Linked DNA regions of Homo sapiens. The protein of the gene in region 1 purifies or fractionates together with the protein of each later gene. This does not show direct contact. Each region holds a gene or a part of one and is shown in the gene's direction. Other genes may lie near its edges. The genes, in order: MYOF, NCAPD3 and TEX264.

The links.
Region 2: the proteins of MYOF (region 1) and NCAPD3 purify together in Homo sapiens (co-immunoprecipitation; one large-scale study listed by IntAct). This does not show direct contact.
Region 3: the proteins of MYOF (region 1) and TEX264 purify together in Homo sapiens (co-immunoprecipitation; one large-scale study listed by IntAct). This does not show direct contact.

The regions. Positions count from the first base shown.
Region 1 is NC_000010.11:93,377,791-93,381,440, reverse strand, and holds part of MYOF (myoferlin), read left to right. Parts: intron 1-44; coding exon 45-222; intron 223-1,453; coding exon 1,454-1,578; intron 1,579-3,650. UniProt on the Homo sapiens protein: Calcium/phospholipid-binding protein that plays a role in the plasmalemma repair mechanism of endothelial cells that permits rapid resealing of membranes disrupted by mechanical stress. Involved in endocytic recycling.
Region 2 is NC_000011.10:134,157,968-134,161,617, reverse strand, and holds part of NCAPD3 (condensin-2 complex subunit D3), read left to right. Parts: intron 1-1,543; coding exon 1,544-1,726; intron 1,727-3,122; coding exon 3,123-3,289; intron 3,290-3,550; coding exon 3,551-3,650.
Region 3 is NC_000003.12:51,684,674-51,688,323, forward strand, and holds part of TEX264 (testis-expressed protein 264), read left to right. Parts: intron 1-141; coding exon of another isoform or gene 142-201; exon of another isoform or gene 202-3,650. UniProt on the Homo sapiens protein: Major reticulophagy (also called ER-phagy) receptor that acts independently of other candidate reticulophagy receptors to remodel subdomains of the endoplasmic reticulum into autophagosomes upon nutrient stress, which then fuse with lysosomes for endoplasmic reticulum turnover.

The DNA.
Region 1 (3,650 bases):
CAAATGGCCTTTCACTGAACCTTATGTCTGCTCATACTTTATAGAAATACCAGCGAAGGCGGAAGTACAGCCTGTCTGCCGTGTTTCATTCAGCCACCATGTTGCAAGATGTTGGTGAGGCCATTCAGTTTGAAGTCAGCATTGGGAACTATGGCAACAAGTTTGACACCACCTGTAAGCCTTTGGCATCAACAACTCAGTACAGCCGTGCTGTATTTGATGGTAAGATTGGCACTAACAGTTCTCTCCACACGTTTACAATGGGTGCACCACGGGACCGGAAGCAAGCACTGTGTCTTCCCTCTGGCACTGTTCTACGCAGCCTATGGTTAGTGGAAAGGAAAAGGTTGAATGAGGAAGAGAGTGTGGTTGGGGTTCAGGCACCTTAAAGACTGGCCAGACCCAAGAAGTTGCAGGTCCCATTGCCAGAGGCTGAACCCCAATGCTACCCTCTCCCCACCCAGCTTTAACAATGGTTTTGCCATGTAAGACCCCAAGGTAGCCACTGTGCTAAGTTCTGAGCTCCGCAAAGCAGCTCCTACCCCTACGAAGCCCCAAATCTTTCTTAGGCTGAGTAGTGGAAAATGAATGGGACTCTGGATCAGCTACTGGGAAATCATGCTTCTGGTCTTCACTCTGTTACTCACCAGCTTGTGACCTTAACCGTGTCACTGAATTCTAACCCTCAGTTTCTTCGTCTTCTCTGGAGTTGACATGAGGATTAAATAGCTGTATTTGAACAAAGATGGGTGAGAAACAGTCCCTGATTTTAAGGAGCTTACATTCTAGTGTATAAAATAAATCATAATAGAAAGCAAAGTATGAGAACTTCCAATAAAACTGTCAACAAATGGTTTGAGAGTACAGAGAAGGGAGAGAGGAATACTGATCAAATTTCCCAACAGTATTGCCAGAGTTTTAACTTAATTTTTGTACAAGCAGTTTTAAAATGTAAGACATCCTAGGAAACATCAGCTAATAATTCTTAATCACAGTAAGGCTCTAGTACCAAACCCTATGTAGCCAGCTAAAGCTTTCCAAGAACAGAAAATTCTTTTCTTTTGCCCCAGTTCCAACAAAAACATTTATTTAGAATAACAGTTTTTAGGGACTAACATGTTCAGTCTAGCTTCCTATGTCATCTGTATTTTCTACTACCACGTTAAGAAACCATCTTTGATGTTCAGATGCATGGCCCTGAATCACTAAACGATCCTGAGATTGCTGTGCTCAGTTTACTAGGGTGTCTCAGAGAAAATTTCAGAACAGCCTGAATGAAAAAGAGCTTCCTAGTCTTCAGTTGCTTAATTGAGTCAAATTAAAGAACCAGACCACCTCAAGCTATTCCCCAAGCCTGTGGATTAATCAGCAGCTCAGTCTGCACATCTCTTTAATAAACATGCTGTCTATTTTAAGTGTTCAGTGTTCATTGACCCCCAATGTTTTATACCAGGCAACTACTATTATTACTTGCCTTGGGCCCACACCAAGCCAGTTGTTACCCTGACTTCATACTGGGAGGATATTAGTCATCGCCTGGATGCGGTGAACACTCTCCTAGCTATGGCAGAACGGCTGGTAAGTTTCTCTTTTTCTGCATTTCCTTTTCACCAAGCAGGGTGAATTAGGTATTAGGATGGAGGCCAGGCCACTATAACACAAGAAAGTGCTTAGTACAGTGATCAATAAGGTAAGAGCAATGTCTCTAGGAACAGTGGAGGTAGATGGTCCTAAGTTAGTATGGAGGTTCAGTGGTATTGGAGACCCAGGCTCTTACCCCCGGTTGCTCTGCCATCACTCAGGAGTTATCATTGTCTGCATGGTAGAGGCAGCTCACTACTACATCTGCCCTCCAGCCTGAGGGGAGGGCTGGTAAACAGTGGGGAGAAGATGACATAGGCCTTTCTCTTGAAGGGAAGGATGCAGAAGTCATACTCTTAATTTCTACTCACTTTCCACTGGCCAGAATCCAGTCATACAGCCACATGTGACTCCAACGAAGGTGGAAAATGTTAGTCTTATGCCTGGGCAGGCATATGCCCAGATAAAAATTTTCTTACTTTGGAAGAGGGGAGGATTAAAAAGGTAGGAGTGGGGTGGAACAGGAACTCATAGTTTCTGCCGTAATTTTTGTGTAGAGAGAATGGTTCATTCCAATAGCAATATGAAACTCTGAGAACTTTGCAGTGGAAATCTCCACTGCAGGAAGAGGTAGCTTTGAGGAACCAGTGTCTGACACATTCCACTCTTGCTGCAGACTAGAGGAACTTCTTTTGTTTGGAGGTTGGGGATTTCCTTGGGTGAAAACTGCATACATATGATATCTGTGATTATCTGTCTAGTTGACATTGGTCAACTAGATTGGTGAGGAGAAGGGGGATATGTCTGTGATATTTCTAATTAAGCAAAAATACTAAGTTACTTGGGCCAGGTGCAGTGGCTCACGCCAGTAATCCCAGCACTTTGGGATACCAAGGTGGGCAGATCATTTGAGATCAGGAGTTAGAGACCAGCCTGGCCAGCATGGTGAAACCCTGTCTCTACTAAAAATACAAAAGAAATTACCTGGGCATGGTGATGTGAGCCTATAATCCCAGCTACTAGGGTGGCTGAGACAGGAGAATCACTTGAACCCGGGAGACGGAGGTTGCAGTGAGCCAAGATGGCGCCATTGCACTCCAGCCTGGACAAATTGAGACTCTGTCTAAAAAGATAAATATATACATATATATATATATATATATATACACACACACACATACACACACACATATACACATATACTAAGTTACTCCTATCAGGTAGTGCTAAAATCCATCTGGCATTGGTGTTTTGATTTCAACATTATGTTAATATTAATTTTTTAAAGATCTAATCTCTACCAGGGCTGGACCAAAACATATGGGGTTTCAGGAGTATACTTGATCTAAAACTCGACGGCAAAATCTGAAATATCATTTTATGTTATAAAGGCAATCTGGGAGGATAACTATAGGTTTAAATTGACTTAATCATAACTGTCCTGAAAATAAAGTTGCAATTGATAGGCAATGTACATCTCAAAGGCATTTGTGGAGAATTAGTTGCACCTGTGTTCTAATTGTGTTTGAGATGCTCTTCAGCAATTTTCATCCTGGTTCTTCTTATCAGCTCTCTCCACTGACCAGGCTGCCTAATCTGGACAGGATGGTGGCTTTCCCTTTTCCCTGATTAGGACTTTTGACAGTCATGGTAGGCTCTTCCTCAACTTCTCTGTTGGCAGGTGCTCAATGGAATAGAACCATATGTTTTGAGCTTATCTTGTACTTTCTCTGCCCCAGTCCGTAAATCGCTATTTCTCCAAGCAGCTTTTTCCTTTGAGTGGGGAATAGCATTTTAGAAACAAAATCTGGGTATACAGTGCTCACTACTACTGAAATATCATTGCTTCTAGGCCTTCTCAGCAAACGAATTTGCACAGACACATGTATGTCTATTTATTTCTATATCTATCAATATATTAAAAGCTATGACTTCATAAAGATACTTCCAATTCCAGTCCAATACCACAAGGTTTATCCTAGTCCTCTGTATTTCTATGTCTCTAACTTTCTTCTCCAACAGTGAGAAATCTGGCCTTTGTTATCCTCAATATATTTACTCCTTGGTTC
Region 2 (3,650 bases), on another chromosome or scaffold:
GGGTTCCACCAAAGCCGCTCTTTCCCTTGGATGTGCAGCCAGGGCCGTGAAGAGCCGGCCCACTGTGCCAAGCACGTCTTCCCTTAATGGAGTTCAAGTCCATCTGGAAAACTTTCCCAGCTGGGGTCAAGAACACAGTCATCTTCGTTCATGCTGCTTGGGGGTAAGGTGAAAGTGAGTCTTCGGGTTTGATTTCAGGGTGCTTACCTTTTGCACTGACTCAGATTCACAAGGTCAGGAAATAACTGCCCTGCAGGAGCTGCCTTCGGAGCTGCCATCACCAGGCTGAATTCTTTGTCAAGCAAGGGGACCATGAGGAGCTCAGTCGGAGCAAACCCAGGATGTGTTGACTTGCAGGGCGGACCTAAGTGGGGCCTCAGACCTTTCTTGCAAAATCTTTTACTAAGAAATAAATGCAACATAGTTTTTCTTTAATTCAGCAGTTATAGCTCTGTTCACATTATGTGTTTTTCTTCCTCAAAAAAATGCTACAATTTTTTTTCCAATAAAGGCCTCAACAAAAATTACATTGAATATAAATTTTCAAATAGCTTTTTATACTAGGAAGCCAAGGTAGGAAAGATAGTCTCATTGTATGATAAAAATAAAAACTTCCAAATATTCTTGTATTTATTGCCTGACTTTAGACCCTAGAAAGGAAAAAAAAAAACAAAAACAGAGCTTTGATCCTACATAGACTACTTAAACACTTAAGAAAAATAAGCCTTCCTCCTGCTTGTGAGCACACACACAGGATGGCCACACGTTGCTTGTTGTCAGTAGCTTGAGGGAGTCTCTTCATTGGCCTGTGGAACCCACTCCTAGTGGCAGCTGGAAAAGTGCATGGATTCCTTCTCTTTGTTGAGACTTCCCTCCCAGTTGGAACTGCAGTGTCTTTTTCTCCCTATTACTGTTAGGTGGAATGATTCTTTCTCTTAGCAAAGTGGTCTTGCCCCTGGCACCCCTCTTTAAGACCTAAGAATGTTTTTCCCTAGGTATGAGAAAAGGTTTTCTGTAAAATCTTCAGAAGAAGACACAAAGATGGGATTTGAGCCTTAGTTGGAATCCCCTGAGAGCCAATGGGGAGGCTAATGTAGACAGATGAGCAGCTTTTAGATCCATGCATCCTGGGACTTGCTCCAGAGGCTGTGTCTGAGCATGTCTTTCTCCCATTGGGAACCTGGGAGAGATTGCCCATTAACTGCCACATAGCCAGGATGCTTCCTAAGAGAGAGAACTGTTAGTTACTCACATATTTTTCTGCTTGTGTGGCCAGTGGTGTTTGCTCCAAATATACCATTGTACCTGTTAGTTACTGGAATGGAAATCATCTGCTTTCAGTAATGTCAGTCCTATTGTTCCTATGATTTATCAAGCAACATGACTTGGGGGGCTTTTTTCTTTCTTAACTTTTATTTTGCGTTCAGGGGTACACGTGCAGGATGTGCAGGTTTGTTACACAGGCGAAGGTGTGTCGTGGGGGTTTAGGGCTTTACGTTTTTATTCAAGAAAACATGAAAGGATGCTCCTGGCTCTGTTTCAGGAGGTGATGCAGGATTACCGAGATGAGCTCAAGGACTTCTTTGCAGTTGACAAACAGCTGGCATCAGAGCTTGAGTATGACATGAAGAAGTACCAGGAACAGCTGGTCCAGGAGCAGGAGCTAGCAAAACATGCAGATGTGGCCGGGACGGCTGGAGGTGCTGAGGTGGCACCTGTGGCACAGGTAGGTGTGGGGCCCACTGCACTGTGACCAGACAGTCCAGTCTGCTGTCTGCTACCAGTCTGTCGTTTGTCTGGCACCTCTCAAGATCTCCGTCATCAGAGGTTAGTCAGCCCGAAGGCCTCGAGAGTGCTGCTTGTTGGCCACTCCCTCGTGCCTTTCTGTCTGTGATGGATTTACTGTGCTCCAGACCTCCCTTCCATGAGGACGTGGTGCAGGAAGCGAGCTGGCAGCAGCAGTAGCTGGTGACTATAGATCCTAGGTCTGCCAGGGTGTGTCAGTGTGTCCGCATCTTCCCCCAGCACTCCCTCTTTAGAGCAGACCGGCACACGGCCATTTCTAGGAGTAGCTGTTGCTCACCGTCCTGAGGAATGCAGGCAGATCTCTTGTAGGAAAGACCAATGAGCACAAAGTAGCATACTCCTTTTTCTCTTCTGTCATGCCACAGCATCTACAAGTGGCAGCTTTCTCATAGTATTCTGTTTCTGAAAAGGAAATTCAACTTACCCAGGGTTGATATGGCTTCAAAGTACATTACTTATGGACTTGCTCATAGTACGTGAAGATTCTATTCCAATAAAGTGTTAAAATGGAGAAAGGGAATGGCTTGTACACTGTTGGTAGGGATGGAAAGTAGAACAGCCACTATGGAGAACAGTATAGAGGTTCCAAAAAACTAAAAGTAGAGGTACCATATGAGGCAGCAGCCTCGCTGCTGACTGTATAGTCAAAAGAAAGGAAATCAGGATGTCGAAGACATACCTGCACTCCCATGTTTATTGCAGCACTGTTCACAATAGCAAAATTTGGAAACAAATGTCCATCAGTGGATGAATGGTAAAGAAAATGGGGTGCATATACAGTGGAGTACTTTTCATCTATAAAAAGTGAAATCTTGTCATCTGTTGCAACATGGATGAACTTGGAAGACATTATATTAAGTGAAATAAGCCAAACACAGAAAGACAAAGATTGTATGTTCTCATTCATATATGTGAGCCAAAAAGGTTGATCTCACGGAGTTAGAGAGTGGATTTTTGGTGATTACCAGAGGCTGGGAAGGGGTGGGAGAAGGGGGATGAAGAGAAGTTGGTTAATGGGTACCAAAATACAGTTAGATAGAAGAAATAAGTTCTAGTATTCAGTACAGTGGAGATATTACAGTTTAACAATTTACTGTATATTTCAAAGTACATAGAAGAATTGGAATGTTCCCAACACAAAGAAAAGATACTCACGTTTGAGGTGATGGAGATGCCAATTACCCTGATTTGATCATTACGTTGTCCACATGTATCAAAATCTCATATGGACCCCCAACCATGTACAACTATCATATATCCGTTTTTGAAAACTTAAAAAGTATTAGAATGTACATACTCTTTATCTTCTCTACCAGGTTGCCCTGTGTTTAGAAACAGTGCCAGTTCCTGCTGGCCAAGAAAACCCTGCCATGTCACCTGCCGTGAGCCAGCCCTGCACACCCAGGGCAAGTGCTGGCCATGTAGCAGTATCATCTCCTACACCTGAAACAGGGCCATTGCAGAGGTTGCTGCCCAAAGCCAGGTAAAGAGCCCCTGGAGGCCACATCAGGGCTGGTTCTCTGTGGCGATGTTCTCAGAGGCGTCCCTGCCATTCCCAAGCGTGGGCAGGAAAGTCATTGTCATTGTCTGGCCTGCCACCCCGCTCCACACTGTGCCCTGGGAGGTTTGAATGAGGGTGGTGAGGGATGCGCCGGTGAGGAGGCACGCGGGGACACAGTGCAGCACTGTCACCTCTGCAGTGGTCTGCAGTGAGAAAGTCAGCGGCTGTGGCTGTTCTCCACAGGCCCATGTCCCTGAGCACCATTGCAATCCTGAATTCTGTCAAGAAAGCCGTGGAGTCAAAGAGCAGGCATCGGAGTCGGAGCTTAGGAGTGCTGCCTTTC
Region 3 (3,650 bases), on another chromosome or scaffold:
AGGCCCCTTGGGTGGAGCTGAGGAGGACTGCCTAGAATGGGAGGAAGAAGTGGTTTTGGGAGAGCAGCACCCTGGGGCCCTCATGGAACAGGTACCTGTGGAGCTAGGAAGATGGGCAGAGGTTGTTGGCATCTCTTTCAGATGCCCAAGATCTTTTGGAAGCCGGAGCATATCCCAAGAGCATGGAGAACTTGTTCATAAATCTGATCTGGTTAGTTTGGCTCTGGCTTTGACCAAAGACATCCATAGTGCTTATCCCACACTCCTGGCTCAGATGAATGGACAGGCCACTTTATTCTCATCCTGCTGGAGGCCTGCAAAGCAAGGACCTGAGGCTCCCAGTGTCTGGGCAGGCCCCAGGTAATCATGTATTGCCCGTGGCCCTGCCTGTGCATGGGCTTATACATCTGCTCCCAGAGGCCAGGGCTGGGACAGCAGTGGCAGGCTCTGTTTCCTTTACTTCCTGACTTGGTTACTGGCAATGCTGGCAGCCCAACCTTCCTGGAGGAAGGAGAGCCAGTCACCTGGTCATCTGACGGGTTTCTGTGTCTACAGAAATTTTTTTAAAACTTGCCCTGTTACACATCCCTCCTCCCCTAAACGTTTTGTAAACTTGGTTGCTAGGGAAATGACCCCAGTTTGGGCTTGGACGTGATTGTTCATTCATTTAACTTGTATTTATAGTCTGTGTGCCAGGTGCTATAATGGGCACAATGTGAATGAAACGTTGGTGCATGAAACAGCCATTCACAGTGAGGTGGTGAAGATAGGTAATAAATATCAGACAAAAATAGGACGTGTGCTAGAGAAGGAGAGGGTGAGAAAAGTCAGGGAACCAACTTGGACAGAATGGTCAGGGACAGCCTCTCAGAGGAGATAACCTCAAGGCAGAGTCCTAGAAGAGCCTTTAGAGAGGAGATAAGAACTTCTAGTCAGAGCTTTGGTCTAAATGCAGCAGGAAGTCACTGCAGTGTTCCAACCAGGAAAATAACACAGTTGGAGCCACGTCTGTACAAGATGAGCTGTCCCATCTCTGGGCAGGGTGGGACTGGACCACAGATCTGGGACCAGGTGGAGATGCTTAGGCCTGGGGCTAAGGAATTAGCCTAGGAGGCTGTCATGAATCCCATTGTGAGTGGTGGCAGCTTGGGCAGGCCCAGCGGCTATAGAGCTGTGGACAAGGATGGAGATTTACAATCACTTTTGGGATAGAACTGATAGACTTTGGGTGGATTCACTGTTGTGGAAGGAGAGGCAGTGAGGGAGTCACAGAGGGCTCTGCTCCCCTCTGGCCTGGGCAGGTGGGCAAGTATGTAGTGATGCTTTCACTGACATGTGGGGAACTGAGGGAGGCCCTGGTTTTGGGGGGAAGGTAGCTATTTGGGCTATGTCAGGGGAGCTGCCTGAGATACATCTAAGTTGGGGGGTGTGGAGTCAGCAATGGTATGTGTGGCCTGGAGTTGAGGAAAGGCTGGGCTGGTGGATATATTTGGGGACATCAGCCTGTTGGCAGTATTTGACCTGGGAGGCTGCCCTGTGCCTCCCTGCCTCTGTGGGACCAGGTAGGCAGTGGACAGCCTGTGGCAGCAAAGGCTGCGCAGAGGGCGTGGCCAGTGTGGCAGGGGTCAGGGAACAGGACGAGAGTCAGTGGGAGTGAGAGCCTGGTACACTTGGAGGATCCTTGCAACTTTGTTCACCAAAGCAGCTTGGGGAAAGGGACACAGCGTTGATGATGGAAATGGGAGTTCAGATGTCCCTGGAGTCTGGTGTTGGGGCTGAGGAATGAATAAATGAGGCCCTGGGTCACCAGCTGTGTCCTTGGCGGTCAAAGACAGGTTTGAAGAATCAGGAGTGAGAAGACCTGGAAAGGGGAGGGCTGTCACGGTGATAAGGCAAGGGCACAGGGAGAATAGAGGGGAGTTTCCTTTGTGAGCTGGAGGGTGGTGGCCAAAAGGGGTGTGGGGCAGGATGTGCTTGCCTGGCTGCGGTTGGACTGGAGGTGGGGGCGGGCTGGCTGGTGGTGTGGGCAGGAAGGAAGATACCAGTGCCCTAGGCCTGCTTAGTGTGCTGCCTCTGGGGAGTCCCGCCCCATTTCATTCAAGGAAGGCCTCTCCAGTCCTGTCGGTGCCATCCTCAACCTCATGGGCCCATCTGGAGGGGCACCCCTGGGAAAGAGACTTCTTGGGTTCCAGACCTCAGAACAGGACATGTGGCATGTGGTGTGGTGGTGAGCAACTCAGCCACCAAAGCCTTTTCCTGGCTTCAGGGGTTTATTTTTAGACACCTTTGTCCAAATTTCCCGGCCCCTGACAGCTTCACAAGTTGCCTGGTTTTGACGTCACCTCTTTGATGAAAGCCCTTCCTCCTTCCTCCCCGCTCCCATGGGAGCCTGTCAGCTGTGCTCCTGGAGTGGGGGTTGAGACAAGGAAGCCAGTGATATGGGGGAGAGCAAGGGGCTTCTCCCAGAGACAGGTGTGAGGCATGCTTGTGTGGGCTTGGCCATCAGCGGGGAGAGTAAGATAGAGGCCGGCTGCCCACAGAAGAGGCATGGCCGAAGGTCCTGGGCTTGTTTTGGCAGCAGGGTGTGGGGGTTGCCTCTGCCCCTGTGTTTAGCCTGACCTTGCGTCTTGGGGAACAAAGCCAGGGGAGAGATGAGGAAGGGGCTAGCTCTGTTTGCTGGTCACAGCCTGCAGTGGACAGGGGTGGCCCTGTGCCTCTCTCAGCCCAGGAGACAGCAAGGAGAGAGTATAAGGCTCCCTTCCATCCCTGCCTTCATCTCCCCTGCCCTGAGGTCAGAGAAAGGAGATTACTAATGAGACTAGTTGCGTCTCACTCTTCTAGCACCGACAGCTTTTAACTGTGTGTGCGTGCGCGTGTGTACACCCTTCTTTTTCTCTCTGGATCTGGGACTGCTGTGAAGGCTCTTCAAATGGAATGACAGCAGCCGTCAGCTTTCTGCTTTGGCAGGGGTGAGAGAGGCCAGGAGCCCTGCTGCCAGGAGTTGCGGGGGGAGGACTTGGCAGGCTCACCAGCCTCTCCAGAGGCTAGGTGAGGGGCAGGGGTGAATGGATCTTAGCTTCGGGTTTGGGAGGTGGAGAGCAGCTGCTGTCCCGGGAGTTGCAGATGTGCCTGAGCCTGGAACAGGATTGGTCTCATGGGACAGAGGGACCTGAAGTTCACGGCGAGAGGCCCAAGGAGAAGCACTTGTCAGGACTCTCGGGATTCTGGAAGGGATGGCTGATCTCAGCTTTCCTGGTTTGCATGGCAGCCTCTGGCTCTCTGGCTAGCCTTCCCCAGCTTGGCAGCCTGGCAAACTGCTATAGATGCTGGAACTCTGCCTTTCTCCATATAAACTGCTAAGGGCCCCCAGGCTGAACACTCATTCCCCTGGAATCCATGCGTACTGTGTGACCATCACTCCATATGGAAGATGCCTCAGCTTTGTCAGGCTGCTCCGCTGGAGTCCAAGGAGGTGGCCTCTAGTACAGGAGGAGACCACTCCCCAAGTCCCAGGAAAGGGGTATCTTCTGGAAGCTGCAGGATGGAACAGAGCTTGCTTGAAATTGCAAACCTGCAGAGGGGAGATGGGGCCCAGATGTGAGCCCAGAGCAATGGGCAGAGGCCCCCAAATTCACCAGTCTTAATGAGTG